Linked DNA regions of Homo sapiens: region 1 is linked to region 2. The links come from fine-mapping of genetic effects on gene expression. A gene starts in region 2. The other region holds a variant in brackets. All regions are shown on one strand. Distances are between the middles of the regions.

Region 1 (11,309 bases), 190 kb after region 2:
CAGTGAGAAATTTGAGATGGTAAAGCGCCAACCGCAAGGAAGAGACTGTAGGCCAAGAGTTGATGAATAGGAGACAGAGGGCAGGGGAGGAGGCAGAGGCTAGAGCGAACAAGGATTCCCCACTGCTTCACATGAGGTAAGAGGAAAGAAGGGGAGCAGAAGCAGAGATGACTAGGTGTGAGGGAGCTTCAAAGGAGTGGAGAAGGTTTCAAAGAGGGCTGGAGGGAACAGGAAAGGAGAGGCTGGGACACAGAGGTGTTGCTGGGTAACAGAGCTAGAAAGCCGAGCCATGTGGGCAGTTCCTTCTGTGCTCACTTCTTGGGCTAGAAGTACATAAAACCTTACTTGCTTAATTGCCATAAGAATGGTTGTAACAGCACTGGCCAGACTCGAGACTCCTCTGACACATGTAGAAATGTTGCTTGCTAACAATCCCTACACCAAGAGAAATCTTTCTCCAAGTACAGATCTTTACCTTGGATTGTTTCAAGTAGCGAAGAAAACCCAATTCTTCTGGGCGCAAAATGAGCAAGGCATGCCCTCTCCCATTTAGGCCTCTGGCTGTTCTACCCACACGATGAATATATTCCTTTGGTGGAGAAAGAAAATCTGAGTTAACGCAGTGACTTCCACATGAGCCCATTTGCGTATCTGCATCCTGAGTATGTGCATGTCTGTACTGAGATGGTGTAGTCCCACGGTGCTGGGCCACACACACCTTCACCACACCCCCACAAAGCTGGGCCAGCAATCGCTCTGTGCACATCACCCCCAATAGGCCAATGATTGAGGCCCAAAAAAAAAAAAAAAAAAAAAAAAAAAAGGCTGGACATGATGTTTGCATTAACAGCGATCTAATAAAATGAGTATTATGTGTGCTTCATCATCAAAACGGCTTTAATCCAGTGTTTGTTGAAAATACTTCTCAATGAAGCTTATTCTACCACATATACTACAGAAGTTTATCTACTTCCTTAAGCAATTTTATTTCCTTCAGGCATCTGCTGTTCTTAAGAGATCATTCCAAGGATCTCATTTTCATAACTTAAGTCCCACTGATCCTTTTCAATCCTCTGGCACAGCCCGTTTGAGCCCTGAAAAGCCTTAAGTACTTTTCAATACCAGAGAAATACTGCAGTCACTGTATAGTAGGGATCTTTACCTTGAATGTGGAATGCAGTTTCCGTCAGGGAACTGGGAGAATAAGTGAACTTTTAATGCAGAGTCATTCTGAAGATATTCCAAAGATGCCAGTTACCTTAGGGTCATCCGGAGGGTCATACTGAACAATCCAGTCGACTTCAGGAATGTCTAGTCCTCTCGCTGCCACATCCGTACACAATAGTGTTCCCGAATCTGCATTGCAGAACTGGAAGAATGTGGTTGTACGCTTATTTTGCTTTTGCTTTCCCTAGAATTAAATAAAAACATCCATTAGAGCTGGAATCTTGAGGAAGACTAGCAGTAGAACCCCCAAATTGTGGAACTGTTACCCTATTTCGAGCTCATCCCTTGGCCTATGTCCTATTTCCCCAACTGTTCCGCAAGCCCCTCAAGGAGGATGGTGTCTTGCACTCTTCGAAAGTCCTCATACCCCTCCACACCCAGCAGCGCTCCCCCACACAGGATCCATCATCTAGTGGTGATCAAACTACTCAGAACAATGTTTCCAGGAGAGGGCAATACCTCCAATCCTACAATCTATAGGATTTAATAAGCATACCCTGTTTTCAATGAGCTCATCATCATCACTTACATGAATGGCCAAGACGGGCAAATCAATGTAGTTCAGCAACTCATAGTGGTATTTCACAGACATACAAGATGAAAAGAAGACCATAAGCTTCTTCTTTCGGTTCTTCTTAAGGAATGTAAAGAGCAGAAGGAATCTCTTTTCAGAAGGACAAACAACATATCCCTAGAAAGCGTTTAAGCAGACAGATACAAATGAACCAAGTGGACATTTTCCATTTCCTAACTTGTGTAATTTCATCAAGAGCACTGATAAACACAGTGTGTAAACTGTCATGCCTCACCTACAGCATTTTAAAAGTTCATTAACCCATTTGCTTTCTGAATGATCCTTCCAACAATTACATAAAAACACCAAGTAAGATCCCTACAGTTTTCAGTTATTGATAAAAAGTACCTGTTCAAGACCATCCACTGTTGCATTCGCTTTATCATCATCAACGCCAACATACAATGGCTCCTTTTTCAGAGAAATCCTTGCCAGGTCTTCAACTTTTCGAGTTTGGGTGGCAGAAAAGAGCATAGTCTGTCTACGTGCTGAAACAGATACATATAAAAATAACCCCAATCTTTTAGGGAATCTTTACAATTGCCTCACAACTACAAATATTCTAGGTAGAGATATCAGAAATGGGAGATATGATGTTTCTACAGAATCTACAAATATTACAAAAGGTAAAAAGGGTATATCATGAAACACTAGGTCTATAAATTTGAGGACTTAGATGAAATGGACAAACTCCTTTGAAGACAAACAACTGAAGAAAATAGGAAAACTTTAAATAGCCTTATATCTACTAAAGAAATTTTAGTTATAACCTTCATGTAAAGAAAATTCCAGGCCCAAATGGATTCCATTGGTGAATTCTACTGAACATTTAAGAAAAAAACATCAATTATTCACAAACTCTCCAATAAATTAAAAAGAGGGCTTACATGTCAACTCATTCTTCGAAGTCAGTCATTACACTATACAAAAACCTGACATGACATGACAAGAAAACTATGGACCAATACAATTCGTGAGCACATATACAAAATTTGAAATAGAATTTTAGTAAAGTGAATTCAGCAATATATAAAAAGGATAATGGCTCATGTTTATTCTAGAAATGGATCAGGTTTATTCTAGAAATGCAGGTTGGTTCAACATTTGAAAAATCAACCAATACAATTCACTATGTTAACTAAAGAAAAAACATGATTATTTCAGCAGACAGAAAAAAAACATTTGACCATCTATTTCTGATTAAAAATCCTCAGCAAACTAGGAACAGAAGGGATCTTCCTCAATCTGATAAAAGGCATCTATATAAAACCTGCAGCTAACTTCATATGTAGTTAATGGTAAAAGACTGAATGCTTTCCCCTAAGATCAGAACCAAGATAAGGATGTCTGCTCTCACCACTTCTATTCAGCACCATACTGGAGGTTCTGGCCAGGGCAATCAGGCAGGAAAAAAAAATTAAATAAAGAGGTGAAACTGTCTTTATCTGCACATGATTGCCTATATAGAAAATCCAAAAGGCTACAGTCATCTGGAAAGTCATACTGAATAATCATTCGGTACAGGATTAACTGTCTTGCTAGATACAAGATCAATATAAAATTCAACTGTGTGTGCATATATATGTGTGTATATGTGTGTGTGTATATATGTATATATTAAAGCAACGAGCAATTGGAACTTGAAATTTTAATGAAACACTCAGAGATAAATCTGACAAAAGATGTGAATAAACCTGTATCCCGAACCCCCCTAAATATGATAGAGAAAATATCGAATACATGGAGATATACCTTATTATGGGTTACATGACTCAATACTGTCTTCCTCCAATAATCTCTATTCAATAAAATCTCAGTCAAGATCTGAGACTTTTTTGGAGGGAAGGGGGAGAAACTGACAAACCAATTCTAAAATTTATATAGAAAAGCAAAGGACAAGAATACCACAACTTTAAAAGAGAACAAACTTGGGGCTAACATTACCTGATGGTCAAGACTTAATAGGAGGAACTGGAACTTTCATACACTGCTCATAGGAATGTTAAATGGTACAGCCGCTTTGGAAAACATCTGGCAGTTTTTTAAAAAGTTAAACATACACTAAACATATACCAACTAGGACACTCCTAGGTTTACTTAAGAGAAAAGGAGATATATGCCTCTACAAAGAGTTGTAGATGACTGTTCACAGCAACTTTATTTCCAGAAAATGCAACCTAATCTAGCAGCAGAAAACAGATCAATACTCACCTGGGGACAAGGTATACGTGTAAGGAGGGGTGGGAGGGAGAAATTGAAAAGGGGCAGGAGGAAACCTTTGACTGTGATGGACATGTTCATTTTCTTGATTGCAGCGATGATGTCACAGTGGTAAACAAATCAAAGAACATCAAATTGTACATTATAAATGGGTAGATATAATTATACTTTGACAAAGCTTTTAAAAATAAATTATATAATGAAGGAAACCATGGTCTTAGTTATAACCAGTTCATAATGTTGCAAGTACTATAACCAAGGTATGTACAAGTAAGGCAAAAAATCTGCGGCTTCTTGGGGGATGTTAGATGAGGTAAGAATGGGCAAGAGGTGGAGGACAGGACCTATGTGAAGACTGCTTAACGTGCCTTATAACTTCTAAAACAGCAAAACTATTATATCAAGTTATAATACATTTGATGCTTGTATTCCAAATTACCTTTCGGGTTAATTGGCACAACTACCTCACTTGGCTATGGTAAAGTTCTGGCATTAGTACAGTTTTTCTATAGGAACAACTCTTATCTACCTCCAACAGATACTTTGCAAACCAAATGCAGATGCTACCTACTTACTTGGCAAAAGTTTAATAATTTGCTTTAATTCCTCTTCAAACCCCACATCCAAGATACGATCAGCTTCATCAATAACCAGACACTGCAGGTTTTTATACATAAATCCTGGGGTATTCTAACAAAACAAAGGACAAAGAACAACCATTAGTTGTCAGTTTATGTTTCATACAAGACAATGAGACAAGCACTACATCTCTTACCTGCATATGGTCCAGCAGACGGCCTGGTGTGGCCACAATGATGTTGATCCCATTACCAAGTTTCTGTGCTTCAGCAGATCTGTTACTGCCACCCATTATCAAGCCATAGGTATGCACGTGGTGAGTCATCAGCTCCTTAAGAACACCAAAGGTTTGCATGGCTAGTTCTCTAGTAGGTGAGAGAATAAGGACTCCTGTTCCTAAAAATGATATATGGTAGAAGTCTAAATGTGGCTGTCACCACTGAGTCCGTAACAGCTACAATAAACCTCTAGTGAAATAATGGCAGAAACAAGCAGATGAACGCTTACCATTCCTGGGCATGAACCTTAACTTAACAATGAGTTCAACTGCAGGGATGAGAAAAGCCAGGGTTTTACCACTGCCTGTTTTTGCAGCTGCTAGAAGATCCCTAAATATTAAAAAGGGAAAGGAGAAAGACATTTAGCCTACTCATTTACGACGTACTACATACACACACCTTAGGCACTACGGCTAGAACATGAACAAGAAACGTCTACAGTGCTGAAATTGATCACCTGGGTTATATAC[T/C]GAAATCATAAGTCAGAACTGTGCTACAACAGAAGCAGAACACCTTTCGAACACTTTCCTTCAAACATCAGTAATTAACTTAAAGCCTTTAATGTATGCTGGATACATGACCCAACATATAGTACAAAATCAACAGAATATACTGGTATGTTCTTTATCATCTACTAGTTCTAAAAATAGATGCCAATATCTAAGCTTCAATGTTAATCATACCTGCCTTCCAGAAGTGGTCTGATACTTTTATGCTGAATTTCAGTCATGTTTGTAAAACCCATTTCTTTTATTGCCTTCAGAGTGTTTTCATTGACAAGATTACATAGAGAAGCAAACGAAGTATCCTCAAAAGCTCCTAAACAGAAGACAATTTATCATTAGCAAATTTATCTTTTTTTTTAAAAAAGTATTGCTACAGTTGCCTAAATCTATTTTGCTTAGAAAAGCTTCCCGCAGTAAGAAAAGGCTAAACCTTAATTATTCATATGTGATAATATCAAGAAAAAGACCCTATATCTTTCAAGTTTCTCCACTGTTAACGGCTGTGTGAGTTATAGTCCAGAGACCATACTATAACAAAACAAGGGGTAGAGAGGAGGTATAACCAAGGAATTTATATAAAATAAAAATACCAAAACAAGGAAAATAATGAGAGTCCAGAGATAAATGAAATGTTTAAGAAATCTGATATAAAAGTGAAAACATTGAGCATTAATAAAAACTGAGTGTGAAGTCAATAATAAAAAAAAAACCTGTTAATCTCACTCCAACAAGACACAGAAGAGTCAGATACAGCCACAGAATGTTAGGCTGAGCCTACGTATCAAGTAATACAGTGGTGGTTCAGCAGAAGGCATCAAAATCACCTGGGGGTTCCCCATACTCCACATGCCCAGGGTGTAAACCAATCACTCTTGACCTTGGCATTGCTGACATCTGGGCTGAATAATTCTTTGCTGTGAAACACTATCCTGTGCCTTATAAGATATTATGCAGTGTTTCTGACCTCTACTCACCAGATCCCAGCAGACTGCTCCTAGCTCTGAGAACCAAAAATGTCTCCTAGGCTTAGGATGACCAATCTTCTCAGTAGGCTAGGGACAGAGGAGATTCTTGGGATTCAGAACTTTCAGTGCTAAAACTGTTAAAGTTCTGGGCAAACCAGGAAGAGTTACTCTTCTTACTCGGGGGGCGAATTTCCCTGCTCGAGAGCTACTACCAAAACGTTTGCAATTTGGATTAAGCAGGTCTAGGGTTGGGCCTCAACATTTTAACAAACCAACCAACCCAAACCAAATAAACAACTCAAGTAACTCCTAGACATATCTGGTTAGGAGCAGTGAATTCTAGCCTAAACTCAACTTTATAAAGGAACAAAGGCCAAAGGAGGTTAACCTCGTACAGGGCCAATCATTTTCCTATTACAACATAGAATGAGACTCAGAAAAGGACAAACCAAGGAATCCTAGAAGCTGCTAGTGTGCATATAAAATATTTGGTGTCAGGAATGAACAAAAGGAAAAAAACAGGGAACAAAAAGAACTAAAACACCACAAAATAGAAGATAAAGAGAAAAAGCAGCAGAAAGATATAAAAAAAGTTTCTTGTTGATAGTTACTTTTTTCAGGTAAACTGAAAGTCACAACTGAACCTTCAAACCTATAATCCTCTAAGAGAGGCACATTTTAAAGAAGTTACCTCTAGAAAACTTCCTGGACGTTACCTGTCAGTCCCAGGGGCAGACTGGGCACCTCACTCTCATCTTCATCATTATCTGGCTTCTCCACATTATTTTCTGTTTCTTTAGTAGTCTCGGCACTTTCTTCTTCAGATTTCCCTTTGTTTTCAGTTTTTGCTTTTTTCGTATCTTTGGTTTTAAAAGACAAAATCCGAAAAAATTTTTCCTTAAAATAGAATTCCAAATGAGATCAACAAACAGAAGATCTCTGATATAAAGACGTATATTTTCAAAAGCTAAGTATATGCTGTATTAATTTGTTAAGAATTCTGTTTGGTGAAAAATGAGTGGTTGTATTTAAAAACCCAGGGTACAGACAGACTTGGTGACAAAACCTTTTAGGCTTTTGTTCAACTAAACAGTATAAACATACCAATTATAAGTTTCACATACTCCACTGAGGGGAAAGGAAGCATACCTGATTAACATAATCCTTAAAAACTCATTATAAGTAGTCATTTTTCTTCCCACGCCAATCACTATCAAAGGCTCTTCATGTTACTAGAGATAGACTGTAAAGGAAGGGCAACAACCCACTTGCCTGGCTGACATACACTGGACTGTGCCTTGGCTATCAGGGATGAGGGTGGGAGGAAAGGCAGGGCTTCTTCCCACCCTCATTTCTACATTCACAACTTTCATGTGGCCCCAACTACCTTTTCAGTCCTACCTCTCACTTCTCTTTTCAATGTTCGACTCTGGGTCAAATGGATTAACCACATGCTGTGTTTATATAAAACTATATGGCAATTAGTGATGTTTGAAAAGAACTTAGACCACAACCCAGGACTCTCTGTAGCTCAGTACTGGTCTCCTCCCTGTACCTGACGGCCACCCTTCCAGGAAAGAGTCAACTTTGTAGGACCTACATGTTCAAAAGCCACAGATATCTTCAGCTGGTCTCCATGGCTTATTTTGTTTTCCCTGGAATAGTTCCTAAAATGTACCCATAAGGTGGTTGGGTGTGGTGGCTTCTGCCTGTAATCCCAGCACTTTGGGAAGCCGAGGTGGGAGGATCACTTGAGCCCAGGAGTTCAAGACCAGCTTGGACAACACAGTGAGACCCCATCTCATAATAAAACAAACAAACAAACAAACAAACAAAAAACCCATAAGGTTAAAACGCCCAGCATTGTGATTCAATGCTTGGGAGCAGAAATAATACCACTTCCTGGGGCATACTCAAAACAAGAATTGTGAAGGCAATAATTTTAGAACAGGATTACAATGACTTCTGTGTGTAGGCATCATGAAGACAGTAATGCATGTTTGGAAAAGTTCAAAGTCCCTTTCTAAATAAAACCCTTATTTCAGGTAAAATACATGAATAGGATGTTCCAACTCAGGGGCTGGCAAACTTTCCGCAAAGGGCCAGATAGTAAATAGTTTAGGCTTTGCAGGTCATATGATCTCTGTTGCCATAAACACAACCAAATAGGCATTGCTATGACCCAGTAAAACTTTATTTACAAAAACAGGTAGAAGGAGGGATAGTTTGCTGACCCCTATCTTATCCTACCTTGATATCTCTGCTTATACAAATCTCAATTATAATGTCCATTCTTTCATCCGAGCTTACTGAAATTCCATCATCTTCAAAAAACATTCCTTCCTTTTCCTCCTGCCATTCTTAGCACTTGGAAATTAATGTTCCATTTATTCAGAAGTTTCCTACTTTATATACTTTGTAACTAATATTCCTTTCAAAGGGAGGAATTTATGGAAGGAAAATGGGAAGAATCAAGCAGGAAAAAAGGTAACTTAAAAAGAAGAGAAAATTTCTAGAATTCTAAGGAGAGTCTTTTCTGAGAGAGGTTTTCTTCAAGGTTAGTGAAATTAAAAATATATTCCTCAATATTTTGAGAAAAGTTGAAATGGACTCCCCGCTTCTGCCAATAAAATGTTTCCATTAGCTACCAGGCTAATCTCTAACATACTGGTGAGTACAGGGAATTCTCATGTCATGTGCACACAATAGTAATAGAAAGAGGAACAATAACCGTCTGTGAAAAACTAAATGGCTGAAGTTCAAAGATAATAAATACCTACCAGGCTCAGCATCATTCACCATTTTTCTCTTTTTCTTCTTTTTCTTTTTTGATTCTGAATTGGAAGACTGCATTGCTGCTTCTCCATTGGTTAATACAGTGGATTTCTGGGGAGACTTTGTAACTTTTATATTTCCCACTGCTTCTTGAGACATGCCTCCATTTTGAGTTTCTGATAAGCCCACATTCATGGGCTTTTGTTTTGATTTTTTAACCTTTCTACTTCCCATTGTTTCTTCAGATACATCTCCATTTTGAGTTTCCGATAGGGTCAGATTTGAGGCCCCTGTTTAAATAAACAGAACATATACTGTGACAAAGAAGGAGAAGTTTACTTAGAAACACTGAAATCCCAAATGAGAACTTCCATGGCTTCCTGACACAAATTATTTAGATTTTCTTCTCTTTCATGTAATTAAAACAACTTATAGTTTTATGGTGTTCCCTTATAGGGAAAGTAAGTTATCTTAAAGAAAAAATACTGGAAAAGGGAAAGCTATATTGATTTCTTAACTGCAAAAGACCGTACATCTGACTTTAAGGAGTCTAGGACAGGAAAACTTCAATGAGGTCAAATATTTAAACAGATGAGGTCAGATAATGGCAGTTACAGAATAAACATAAGTATTTGATAAACATATGATTAACTGATATATTGAAAAAGACATTTACAACTCATTCACACAAGTACTATTTTTCATACCACTTCAAAACATTCAACCCCAACTCTTCTAGACTGCAGTGAGTTGAAAATTCAGTTGATAAGACCACTTATTTGCTCCAATATTTATCATATGCAAATACAGTAATGCGTGCACAATGACATTTCTGTGAATTAAGGACAACATATACAGTGGCTCCATAAGATTATAACGGAGCTAAAAAATTCCTATCACCTAGTGCCATCAGTAACTGCAATGTCGTAGTGCAACATATTACTCATGTTTGTAGTGATGCTAGTATAAACAAATCTACTGTAATGCCAGTCGTATAAAGTACAGCACACATAATTATGTACAATACATAATACGTGATAATAAACTATGTTACTTGTTTATGTGTTTACTATACTTTTGATCATCATTTTAGAGTTTACTCCTTTTACTTATTAAAAAAAAATGAGTCGACTGTAAAAGAGCCTCAGGGAGAGAGGTATTTTAGAAGGCACTGTTATCATAGGAGATGACAGCTCCATGCCTATTGTTGCCCCTGAAGATCTTCCAGTGGGACAAGATGTGGAAGCGGAAGACAGTGAAACTGAATGTGTCTGTGTCTTTACATTTTTAACAAAAAGCTTAAAAAGAAAAAAAAATAAAATAAAAATCACATAGAATAAGGACAAAAGGAAACTTTTTGTACAGCTGTATGTACAATGTGCTTGTGTTGTAAGCTAAGTGTTATTAAAGTCAAAAGGTTAAAATTTAACAAGTTTATAATGTAAAAGTTACAGCAGGCTAAGGTTAATTTAAGAATAAAAGTATTAAAAAACTCAACAGTGTAGCCCAAGTGTACAGTGTTTATAAAGTCTATAGTGTACAGTAATGTTCTAGGCCTTCACATTCACTCACCGCTCACTGACTCGCTCAGGGTAACTTCCAGTCCTGCAAACTCCATTCATGGTAAGTACTGTATACAGAGGTACCATTTTCTAAATCTCTCATGTCATAGTCTTTTTACTGTACCTTTTCTATGTTTAGATATATTTAGCCATACATACACTTACCATTGTGTTACAATTCTCTGAGTATAGTACAGTAACATGCTGTACAGGATGACAGCTTACGAGCAACAGGCTATATCATGTAGCCTGGGTGTGTAGTAGATTTAGGTTTGTGTAACTAGATAAAGTTCGCAAAACGACAAAAGCCCCTAATGACACATTTCTCACAATGTATCCCCCCTCCTGTTATGCGATGCATGACTGTACCTGAGAATGTCCTTACCAAAGGTTCCCTGTTTGTTTACTGAAAAAGATAAAACACCATCTTTTGTTCAAATTTACTTACATATGCGCTGAAAAGTAGTAATGCTGTAGTATTATTCTATAGGAATTAGAAATACAAGAGTATTTCAAAACATATTCCTAAAATTCACAAACCTATTGCCTCCTGCAGAATTTTTTTTCAATTAATGTCTGTTGAAAACCAACTGGGGCAAGGCACTGTGCCTCCAAACTTTCCC
Region 2 (11,009 bases):
GGCTATTTAGAAGTGAAATTCCTGAGTCAATTGTTTCCTTTCATTTCTAGACAGTGTAAGGATAGTACTTGAGTTGGTGCTATTAACCCCCTCCCCAAAATGTGAATGGTAGTAGGGATTCTTTGTGGGCAGTCCTGCCACTGGAGACATTTGAAACTCAAATTCCATTTCTATAGATCAAAGGCTAAATCACACCAGTGGTAAAACTAATATGTTTACAAAACAAATTTTGATTTAAACAAACCAACAAAATTCCCTTTGATGGCTCTCATTGCACTTAGGTAAAATCCAATCCCCTCCTGGTGGTCCCCAAGGTCCTGATGGGGCCAGACCATCCAGTTGGCACCTAGTTAGTGCTCCTGCTCCAACCCCTCAGGTGCAAGCTCCTCCCTATTCATGGCCCCCTCTCTGTTGGAAACCTTTATCCCGCTCCAGGTCTAACCCTCTTTCATCTCAAGTCTTACATGTTGTATCCCTGGAGAAACTTTCATTAACTTCCCACTCAAAACTGTTACTCCTGTTCCTCTTTTTCATCCCACTTTTCAACTCATTATTAAAGGCACTTATTTCAACATGCGTCATGTCATCTGTGCTGTGATGATTGGTTGACTGTGCATGCTCATCCCAGAGCTCTGTTCTCTTTCTTTTCTGTATCCAGCATTTTTCAGACAGAGGGTTGGGCATGCTTATGGCATCTGGGGGAACAATTCTTTGTACAGTTTATAAGGTTATGCATGATAATGATGCTTAACAAATAACCCCCAAACCTCATTGGTCACAACCAACACTGATATCTCACTCGTGGGCTTGGTACTCGGCTGGGCTTGGGGCTCAGGTCTGCTCTGGTCTCTCACTGGTGTTTCTTGCTTGAGGGCCCAGGTGGAGGGAGGTATGGTTGCCTGAGTATGCGGTCTCCTGGTGAATGGCTTGAGCTTAGGAGAGTGAGGGAACACAGAATGGTTCTTGACACCTCACCCAGAACTGGCACAATCTCCTATCTGCTTACATTTCTCTGGTCAAAGAAATTTTTATGACCTAAAATCAATGCAGGAAGTTTGATGTCTTTAACAACTGGGTGCTAAATGTTGGTAATGCCTCTGCTGTGGTGGGAATGTTTGGGTTACCCCAAAATCTATATGTTGAAATCCTGACTCCCACAAGGTGATAGTATTAGAAGATGGGAGGTGATTAGGGCTCTACCATAATGAATAGGATTGTGCTCTTATAAAAGAGGCCTTACAGAGGCTCCTCACCCTTCTACCGTGTAAGGTGACAATGAGAAGCTGTACATCCATAAGAAATGGGACCTCGCCAGACATTATATTTGGCGATGCCTTGACCTTGGACTTCCCAGCCTCCAGAAGTGAGGAAAATAAAATTTTTGTAGTTTATAAGCCACTCTATAGTATTTTGTTATAGCAGCCTAAAAAGACTAAGACAATCTCCCATGCTCTGTGAAAACTCCAGACTGCTCCTTGGTCCTGAATCTCTACCCTCACCCACATTGAGAGCCCTTCTCTGTACCTGGCACAGAAGAGGCACAGAATGAATATTTGGTGAAAAATTAACTTTGCCAAACTGCCGTCCAAGAACTGTTGTAAAACCTTACTGACTAGGGAATGCTACTGGCATTTGTTTAGTGTCTTTTAAGCATTAATTATTTTTTCCATGCAAAAAGATACCACATTTTAACCTTTTAGAATAAGGCTGAGTTTTTTTTTTTTTTTCAGACATTTAGTGACAATTTCTTTTAGAAATTCTCTATTCAAGTCTTATGCTCATTTTTCTGTTAAATGTTTCTTCCTCATTTGGAAGAATTCTTGTCACAGGTAACAAATATTTTTCCAGTTTGCCTTTTAAATGTTGTAATAATTTTTTGGCAGGCAGACATTGTTAACATTTATACAGCCTCATCTCTCACTGTTTTTGTTCATGGCCTGCTGAAGCACACATTTTCACTATATCAAATGGACAGACTATAATGTACCTAACCAGTCCCTTATTATGGGCTATTTAGATGGTTTATAGGTTTTTTTTCTCATCAGTAACATTGTGATGAAGATCTGATATAAGCCCTGAAAGTGGAAGTATCATATCAAAGAAAATTTTTAAGTTCTTAATATATTTTGTCAAATTACTATTGAAATCTTACTTCCTAGTCCCTATAACTCAGTTCCCCCAAACCCCAGGACTCACATCCCAGACACCCCTTCATCCCAAGACCCACATCCCAGATCCTCATACCCCAGGCCCTGCTGCTGAAGTCCTTACTGGTCAGCCTTGTGCTGAAACAAACAAGGAGAGGACTGAGAGCAGGACTGGAAGGGTAATGGGAAACTGTCCAGAACACCTCAGATGCTCCTTCTGCCAGCAATGCTTTCCCCTGAGGCCCTTCTATGGTGTCCTTTTGGGATTTAGGTCTCTCTCAAATGGCACTGCAAAGCCTAATCCTGGCCCCTTCATCTAAAAGTGACTCTGACTCTAGCTATTCTTTATTGCATTACACTGGTTTTTTTTAATTGTTGTTGTTGTAGTTGTCATTGCTTGTTTTTTGGTTTTTGTTTTTTTTGTTGTTGTTGTTGTTAATTGTAGAGACAGGTTTTTGCCATGTTTCCCAGGCTGGTCTTGAACTCCTGGGCTCAAGCAATCTGCCTGCCTCAGCCTCCCAAAGTGCTGGGATTACAGGTGTGAGCCACCACACCCAAACTACACTGTTTTTCCCCCCTTTAATAGCACCTATTTCTACCTGATATTATCTTATTAATTACATGTTTAATTTCTGTCAGTAATTATCTTGTTTGGTGTGTTGACTGCAGTATCTGCAGCATCAGGAACAGTTTCTGGCACAGAGAAACTCTTCTCAAATTGACTGCTTATTGGAATCACCTGTGAAGCTTTGAAAATCCCATTACCTACCCCCGACCAAAAGAAAGAATTGTTTAGTTATTAAATCACTTTACAAAAAAATGTAAATATTATTTTCTCCAGGAGATAGAGAATGTAGCAGATATTCTCAAACATGTTTATTTACTACTGTGTAGTTGGCCCCTTGTTGAATCCTTTTTAATGTAGCTAATAGAGTGTGGTTGTACAAACTATGAAAGTTATTGAAATTCTTTGATAAAACTATCATTTTTGGGGGAAAACGTATTGGAAGAACTCATCCAAGTGTGTGTGTGTACACGCTGTGTTTTTCTAACCTTCAGTCCAGAAGTAGAAGGGGTTTAAATCTGCTTGCACTGCCTGTGCCTCCATTATGTTACTGTAGAAATGTGACATGCTAAATATAGGATGGTGCATTATAAAATTGTACCGCTTGAGAATAGACCAGCATGCCATTAAGAATTTTTAGGAAGAACTCATTTAACCTAAGAGCTCTTTGTTTATGGATTTTGAATTTTATATGCCACTGTGATCTATAAAGAAACAAATCCATAATGAAGTCACTATTCACTACTGTGTTGTATATAAAACAATATGTTCCAAGGCAAAAAATTCAATATTCATGCCTCTCCCTAGCCCAATTAAATCAGGATTGCTAAGGGTGGAATCCAGGTGATTCCAATGTGCAGCCAAGTTTGAGAGCTACTGACATAGAAGAAACTCAGCAATATTTGTTGGATGGATGGATGGATGGATGGATGGTTGGATGGGTGAGCAAAAGAACATGGGGAATGAGAAATTTGGGGCTCTGGTTCTAGCACTCCCTCTAATGTGCTGTGTGACCTCGCTGTGTCACTCTACTTTACTGAACACCCATTGTTGCACTACATGTAGAAGGAATGAGAGAAGCCTGAAGACAGAATAATTAAAGCTTTATAGAAAACTTCCGGCTGGGAGCGGTGGCTCACGCCTGGAATCCTAGCACTTTGGAAGGCCGAGGTGGGCGGATCACGAGGTCAGGAGATCGAGACCATCCTGGCTAACACAGTGAAACCCCGCCTCTAGTAGAAATACAAAAAATTAGCCGGGCGTGGTGGCGGGCGCCTGTAGTCCCAGCTACTCGGGAGGCTGAGGCAGGAGAATGGCGTGAACCCGGGAGGCGGAGCTTGCAGTGAGCCGAGATCGCACCACTGCACTCCAGCCTGGGTGACAGAGCGAGACTCCGTCTCAAAAAAAAAAAAAAAGAAAAAAAAGAAAGAAAACTTCCTCCAGAACAAAGCTAAGCCTAACAGGAAGCTCTTTACTATGTGTATTAGGCCATTCTCCCATTGCTATAAAGAAATACCTGAGACTGGGTAATTTATAAAGAAGAGGTTTAATTAACTCACAGTTCTACAGGCTTTACAGAAAGCATGGCGCCGGCATCTGCTTGGCTTCTGGGGAGGCTTTAGGAAGATTACAATCATGGTGGAAGGTGAAAGGAGAGCAGGCATGTCACATGGTGAAAGCAAGAGCTAGAGAGGATAAGTGCCACACTTTTAAACAGCCAGATCTCGTGATGAGTGACTCAGTGTCAGGAAGACAGCACCAAGAGGATGTTGCTAAACCATTCACAAAAAATCCACCCCAACGAGCCAATCACCTCCCACCAGGCCCCACCTCCAACACTGGCTATTACATTTTGACATGAGATCTGGGTGGGACAAATATCCAAACTATATCACTATGGTACCTCTTTACCCACGAACTGGAAAGTATTTGTGAGGCTCCAAAGAGGAACATCACACAACTCTGTACTCAGTGTACAGAAGAGAGACAGAATGACTGATTTCTAGTCCTCAGATATCACACTTGGGAGACACAATTTGTGAGGGTGCCTGGAGTGAAGGGAAAGGGAGAGAGATGGATTGATCTGAGAGATTCCTCACAAGCCTCCTTGTCTGCATTGGCTGTTAAAGGTCTTCTTCAAGACTGTGAAGGGTTTCTGCTCTCAAATATGGGCTGCTTAAACTTTCTTTTTCTTTTTTAAGAGACAGTGTCTTGCTATATTGCCCAGGCTTAAGTGCAGTGGCTATTCATGGTCATGATCCCACTACTGATCAGCACAGAAGTTTTAACCTGCTCTGTTTCTGACCTGGGCCAGTTCACCACTCCTTAGGCAACCTTGCTCCCTGGAGGTCACTGTATTGATACCAAACTTAGTGCAGATCTCTGATTGGCATAGCTTACTAAAGCCCAGAACTCCTGGGCTCAAGCGATTTTCCTGCCTCAGCCTCCCGAGTTGCTGGGACATAAGCAGGTGCCACCTAGCCCTGTTCAAACTTTCTTGACGATATTATGGCTGTTTTGCTGAGATTTTTTTTTTTAAGCATGCCCCATGCCCCTCAACTCTGTTACTGTCACTCTACACCTGTTGTAACATAGGACAGTTTCTTTTTTTTTTTTTAGACAGAGTTTCACTCTTGTTGCCCAGGCTGGAGTGCAGTGGCACAATCTCAGCTCACCGCAACCTCCGCCTTCCCAGTTCAAGTGATTCTCCTGCCTCAGCCTACCAAGTAGCTGGGATTACAGGCATGCGCTGCCACGCCCGGCTAATTTTGTATTTTTAGTAGAGACGGCATTTCTCCATGTTGGTCAGGCTGGTCTCGAACTCCCAATCTCAGGTGATCCACCCGCCTCGGCCTCTCAAAGTGCTGGGATTACAGACATGAGCCACCGCGCTCGGGAAGGACAGTTTCTTACTGAGGAAGTTAGCTACTCATGCTTATTTAAAACATTGCAAAAGCATTATAACAGGGAACTCAGGGTGTGGCCTGAGTCCTGTTATTCTCCAGGCTGCTATTATATACAGCTGTTTAGGCTTGCCTGCTATGTGAGATCTTACTACCTGTTCCTAGGCATCAGTACCTGTCTGGTCACTCAACAGTGGCCACAAATTATTATCACTCTCCATTCCCCATCAACCTATACCATTTCAGTGAATGACAGTTTTAAAACTACAAAAACAACACATTTGGGAAGTTATGAGAGTAGAAATTGAAGTTTATTGGCTTCACAAAGGATAAGAGCAAGATATACCACACAGGAGGGTTCCCATCTCAATACCTTAACTTGCATATTCAGATTATTCAAATTATTGGGGACCAGGGTTTGGGGATCGTGCACAGCTTTGAGTAATATTTGCTAGTTATATTTAAGAACAAAATGGCATCCTTAGGGCAGTTCCAACTATTTGTGAGCTCTGGCTCCAGACAAACCTCTGTCTGTCAGGATGAACTCCAGGAGGAGTACAAAAGGTGCAAAAATAAAATAAAATAGAAAACATCATATATATATACACGTATATATATACACACATATATACACGTATATATATATACACACATATATATATATACACGTATATATATATAGTTTTTAGACAGGGTCTTGCTCTGTCACCCAAGCAGGAGTGCAGTGGTGTTATCATAGCTCACTGCAACCTCAACCTTCCTGGCTCAAGCAATTCTCCCACCTCAGCCTACCGGCTAGCTGGGACCACTGGCACCGGGCTAATTTTCTTATTTTTTGTAGAGATGGAGGTCTCACTATGTTGCCCAGGTTGGTCTCCAACTCCTAGGTTCAAGTGATACTCCCGCCTCGACCCCCAAAGTGCTGGGATTACAGGCATGTGCCACCGCGCCTGCCTACTCTTTTAAAGACGCTAGGGATGCAAAGAAGAGACGAAAGCAAACACGAAACCTTTTTGATCTCAAGGAACTAAAGGTCTGAGTCTGACACTTCCCATCCCACACACATATACAGAGGGAAGGATCTCTTCTCCAGCAAAAGTTTTCACGAAAGTCATCTCTTTCCTCATTGCTTAAAAGAAACAAAAAGCCAAGAAGCCGTTATGGAGCGGGTGTGGGGGCCTGTGACCTTTTGTCTAGTTGCCATCCTCCGGGACCAACAAGGGGTACATCAAATAAGGGACGCGGCGGCTCAAATGACATGAACATAGGAGTCCGCATTCTCTGAGATGTCATTCCTCCAGGAAGACCCAGGAACCGTGAATAGGGCGGGGTGGTGGGCAATATCTGAAGCGAGGTTTCCTGGGAACGCGATGCCACTGGCCAGGACGCTGGAGAGGGCAGCGGGCTTGAAGAATCCCTTCTCAAGGGGTCCGTTCCTGGGTCGTATATGGAGAAGTCTGTCCAAGCGTGTGTCTGTAAGGTCTAGAGCCGGGCGTGCATTCAGAATCCTCAAGCTCATCTGTACTTGGACTCTGACCCTGAAGCGAGGCGGTTTCCGAAGTCTGATTCACCGAGGGGACAGGACCTATTTGGGGCATCCGATGGCAGCGAGAAGAGAAGGGAGCCGAAATGCAAAATATTCTCAAGATGCAGGAGGAACCCCTCTCAAAGAGCGCCACGGAGAAAACTTCAGAGTACGGGCGCGATGATCCAGCACAACGCCAGGACCTGCAGCCCAGCCCACCTCTCCCCGGGCTGCTGTGGCGCAGGCGCAGTGGCGCCGCGCTCCGGCCCCAGCGCGCATGCTCTGCCCGGCTGCGGCGCTTCGGGCAGGCGGCGGCGGCGGCGGCGGCGGCGGCAGAGGGAGTTTCCGCTTTGTACTCCACCCCGGTAGCAGCTCCGCGGCAGGGACAGCTTCCTCCGGACGCTTGGCGGGCTTCGCTCTCGCCTTACGACAGCCCGGTCGGATCATGGGGTTGCCCAGGGGGCCGGAGGGCCAGGGTCTCCCGGAGGTAAGAACGCCTCCTCCTTCCCTGACACGTCGGGGTTCCTGAAGAGAGGGCCGAGCCGCGGGGCGGCGGGCTGAGCGGGCCCTGGGTGCGTTAGGGGCGCCCCGCCCCCTTCCTCAGGCGTATCCACCTCAGGGAAGCGCCGACCCTCTTCTTGGAGGCGGGGAGCAGGTACCCCTGCATGGGCAGGGGGCGGCGGGCGGGTGAGGACAAACTTAAGCCGCTCCCGGGTCTCTTGGGGCGCAGGTGGCCTTCCTAGCCCGACACCTGCTCTGACGCAGCCCCACGCGCCGCGGGGTCCTGGGCTCCCACCTTTCTCCCTGTCCGGGACGGGCTCCCCCACCCCGCGCCGCAGGGCTAGCCCCGAGGGCCGAGGCTGCTGGGCGCTGGAGTCACGAGACCGCTCTCCGAGGCGGTTCGGGCTCGGGTGGTGACCTTGGGACGTCTACCGCCACCCCGCAGAGTCCCGGCGGCCCGCCCCACCCGCCTTGCTGTCGGGAGGGAATGCCACCCTCCTTGCGTGGACCCGGGCCGGGGCGGCGGGAGGAAGTTTGGGAGACTTGCGCGCACCAGGGAGGTGTCCCGCTGGGTCAGCGCGCCGGGGCGTTCGGGGTGGGACGCACTCCAGGGGTGCTGTGTGGCGGGGGACCCGGCTCTGGGCGGAAAGGCTGCGGCTTCTCCAGAAGAGGGCGGGGTTCTTTTCCAAAGGTGTTTGTTAAGTACTCACTTAGTGCTAGGGAGGGGGTCATGAGTGGTTTGCGGATTTCCACGTTTGCTGGGAATACAGGGAAAGTGTATTCATTTTCTTTTGGCTGCAAATACCACTTAGCATCTCATAGGTAGTTTGCATCTGTCGTCCCTTTCAGTTGATTTTACTCAAAGGCTAGTCTAGTTTACTGGATTCTGGAGAGAAATGGAAGCCACGCCGCACCTCTGCCTTTTTCCTAAGGTTCTGGAGCAGGCATTGGGCAGGGTGACTGCTTGCTTGACGTGGTGAGTCGTCCCTTCACACTTACCTGCCAGTGACCAATGTTACTCCTCTGCATTCCTCCCAAATCCTCAGTTCTTTCATATCACAAGTATCCACTAATTGAGGGATCACTGTGTTCTGTGTCCAGAAGCTGGGAATATATATAGTCTGAAAGGACAGATTTGTTTGTCAGTGTGTGCTCCCCGAATGCAAGTCCATTTTGTTGTCTTAAGAAAACCTGACAAGCATAATGTTGTCAGAACCCCTGTATTAGGTAAAATCTTACATGCACGTTGCCTGGGATGGGACCCAGGATAGTGAACAATAGGATTTGTACTGTGACATTTGAAGTTTTCTTTTTTGCCACTTCTGTATTCTAGGCTCTCATCAAGTTTTTGCCTGGCCTTTTGCTGTAGACTTCTGTCTGGTCTCCCACGTTCTACTTTAAATCCGTCCAACCCAATATTCCACAGTACTATCAGTGGAGGTCTTTCTGGGGGGAAAATAAATAAATTAATTAATGAAGAGCAACCTGCTGCTGTATGTCCTTCGTTTAAACTTTCACTGACTGCTAAGAGGCCACACTCACCAGGTCAAGCAATAACTTATCATCATTTAGTTCAGAAGCTAGTAAATATAAATATGGATAGTCTGTGTTATTAGGATGTCACTAGACCAGTTAATTCATTAAATTCATTCTTTTTTTTTTTTTTGAGACAGAGTCTCACTCTGTCACCGAGGCTGGAGTGCAATGGCGTGAGCTCGGTTCATTGCAACCTCTGCCTCCCAGGTTCAAGCAATTCTTATGCCTCAGGCTTCCCAGTAGCTGGGATTGCAGATGTGAGCCACTGCCCTGCCCGAATTCATTCTTTTTAACCCTTTACAAAGATAGCTAGACTTGGCCTGCCTTCCAGCTTACAACAACTATAGTGGACGGAAATTGAAAGTTTATTGGGCTTTGTGTAAGAGCTCATTGTTGTTTGTCTTTGTCAGAAATTTAGCTTCAACAACTGGATGTATTAACCAGCCTGGTGGATTTTTATTGCTTCAAGAGAGGGTCTTTCATTCCCAGCAGATCAGACAGTGGCCCTTTTCCATTTGATTTCAGTGTTAATCTGCTAAGTGAATTTGGAGTCATACATTCCCATTTAGTGTCTTGTGCCAAAATTACTTCACAAGTTATATTGCAAAAGTAAACTTCTCCATGCTAGGGGTGAGTGGATGGAAGCCTGGGCCCTGCATCTGTGGTGGGGTGGCCAGTGGGTGTCCATTAGATAGGTGTTGAGGCAGTGATGATCCTATTTTTTTTTGGTTTTTTTTGTCTTCTTCTCATGTTTTCATAATAAATGATTGAACAAATGAAGTGTTCCTGTTTTACACCCCAGAAGTTTTAAGAAAGTACTTATATTATCTCATTTTCTTTTTCTGCTGACTTGAACTACAACTACTCTTTAGCTTCTCTTTTCTTAGAGTGTTTTCACTTGTAGACGTTTCTCAACCATCCCAGATTTTTTGCAGAAGGGAGAGAAGGTGTGAATTATTTATATTACTTAAGAAAATTTTTATGTCCACTAGGAACTAGTGAATGCTGATCTTCAGGATCCTTAATGGACTGGACCAGGGTCATTTCAGAGACGGATGTAGCTCAGTGCTGTCACCTCCCCCACGCCACTCCTACTCTATTGCAGGGGATTATCAGTCACTTTAATAATTCTGTATTAACTATATTTTAATATGTATACTCCCTTTCCTGGCAGTTTATACATCAAAATAAACTTTCCATTGTCAGGGATGTGATCACTGAAACATTTTATTAATACATGACTGGTTTAGGTTCACTTACTTTATGTAAGCATTAGTAGATCATTCTTTATTTAATAAGTGTGTCCTTGGAGCTTAATGTTGTTTGGATTCAGAGGAGTAAACCCAAGTATATAATATATAGTCCTCTCGTTAATCAATCAGTAGTCCAGTTGCAAAGACAAGCATGTGTATAACACTAGATATCTCACTTTGAAGAGGTTGATACTTAGTTATATGTACAGTATATAGTTGATACTTAGTTATATGTACAGAAATGCTGAGGAGAGTGGCCATTTCAGGATAGACTTGTGAGGGATGGTGTTGCATGGGAGCTGGAATTTGAAAGTGATTTCTCAGTGGTTAGAGAATATAGCCATGGCCTTGTCTTGATTGTTTTTGGGGTAGTTAAAGGATGAACCTGAAAAGATAGTTTGGTGGCCAAAGATCTGAATGTGAAACCAGACATCTGGAGTTTATCTTACAGGCAGTGTGTGTGGTGCATTGTTGATAAGGGCTGGGAGGGTGAGCTAAAGAGGGATAACATGAAAGCTGTGATTTAGGAAGGGATGAGCAAAACAAATTAAAGGAAGAAAGATGAAGAAGCATTTGCAA

Evidence for each region.
Region 1: its variant is fine-mapped to the expression of CCDC93 in whole blood (TOPMed, PIP above 0.99).

What each region holds. Positions count from the first base shown.
Region 1 is chr2:117,815,549-117,826,857 of GRCh38, reverse strand. It overlaps DDX18 (DEAD-box helicase 18), which reads right to left. Exons shown (of 14, transcript NM_006773.4): 2 at 9,130-9,414; 3 at 7,066-7,209; 4 at 5,562-5,697; 5 at 5,108-5,208; 6 at 4,797-4,996; 7 at 4,597-4,711; 8 at 2,150-2,289; 9 at 1,757-1,918; 10 at 1,259-1,411; 11 at 476-589. Among named protein-coding and RNA genes, the nearest start is that of DDX18, 6.5 kb to the right of the region's middle. RefSeq lists silencers at 6,145-6,214, 6,225-6,274. The variant T/C (reference allele first, on the strand shown) is at 5,349.
Region 2 is chr2:118,010,572-118,021,580 of GRCh38, reverse strand. It overlaps CCDC93 (CCC complex scaffolding subunit CCDC93), which reads left to right and starts at 7,511. Exons shown (of 24, transcript NM_019044.5): 1 at 7,511-7,627. The coding sequence starts at 7,586. It also overlaps the pseudogene RN7SL111P. RefSeq lists silencers at 7,304-7,503, 7,974-8,023.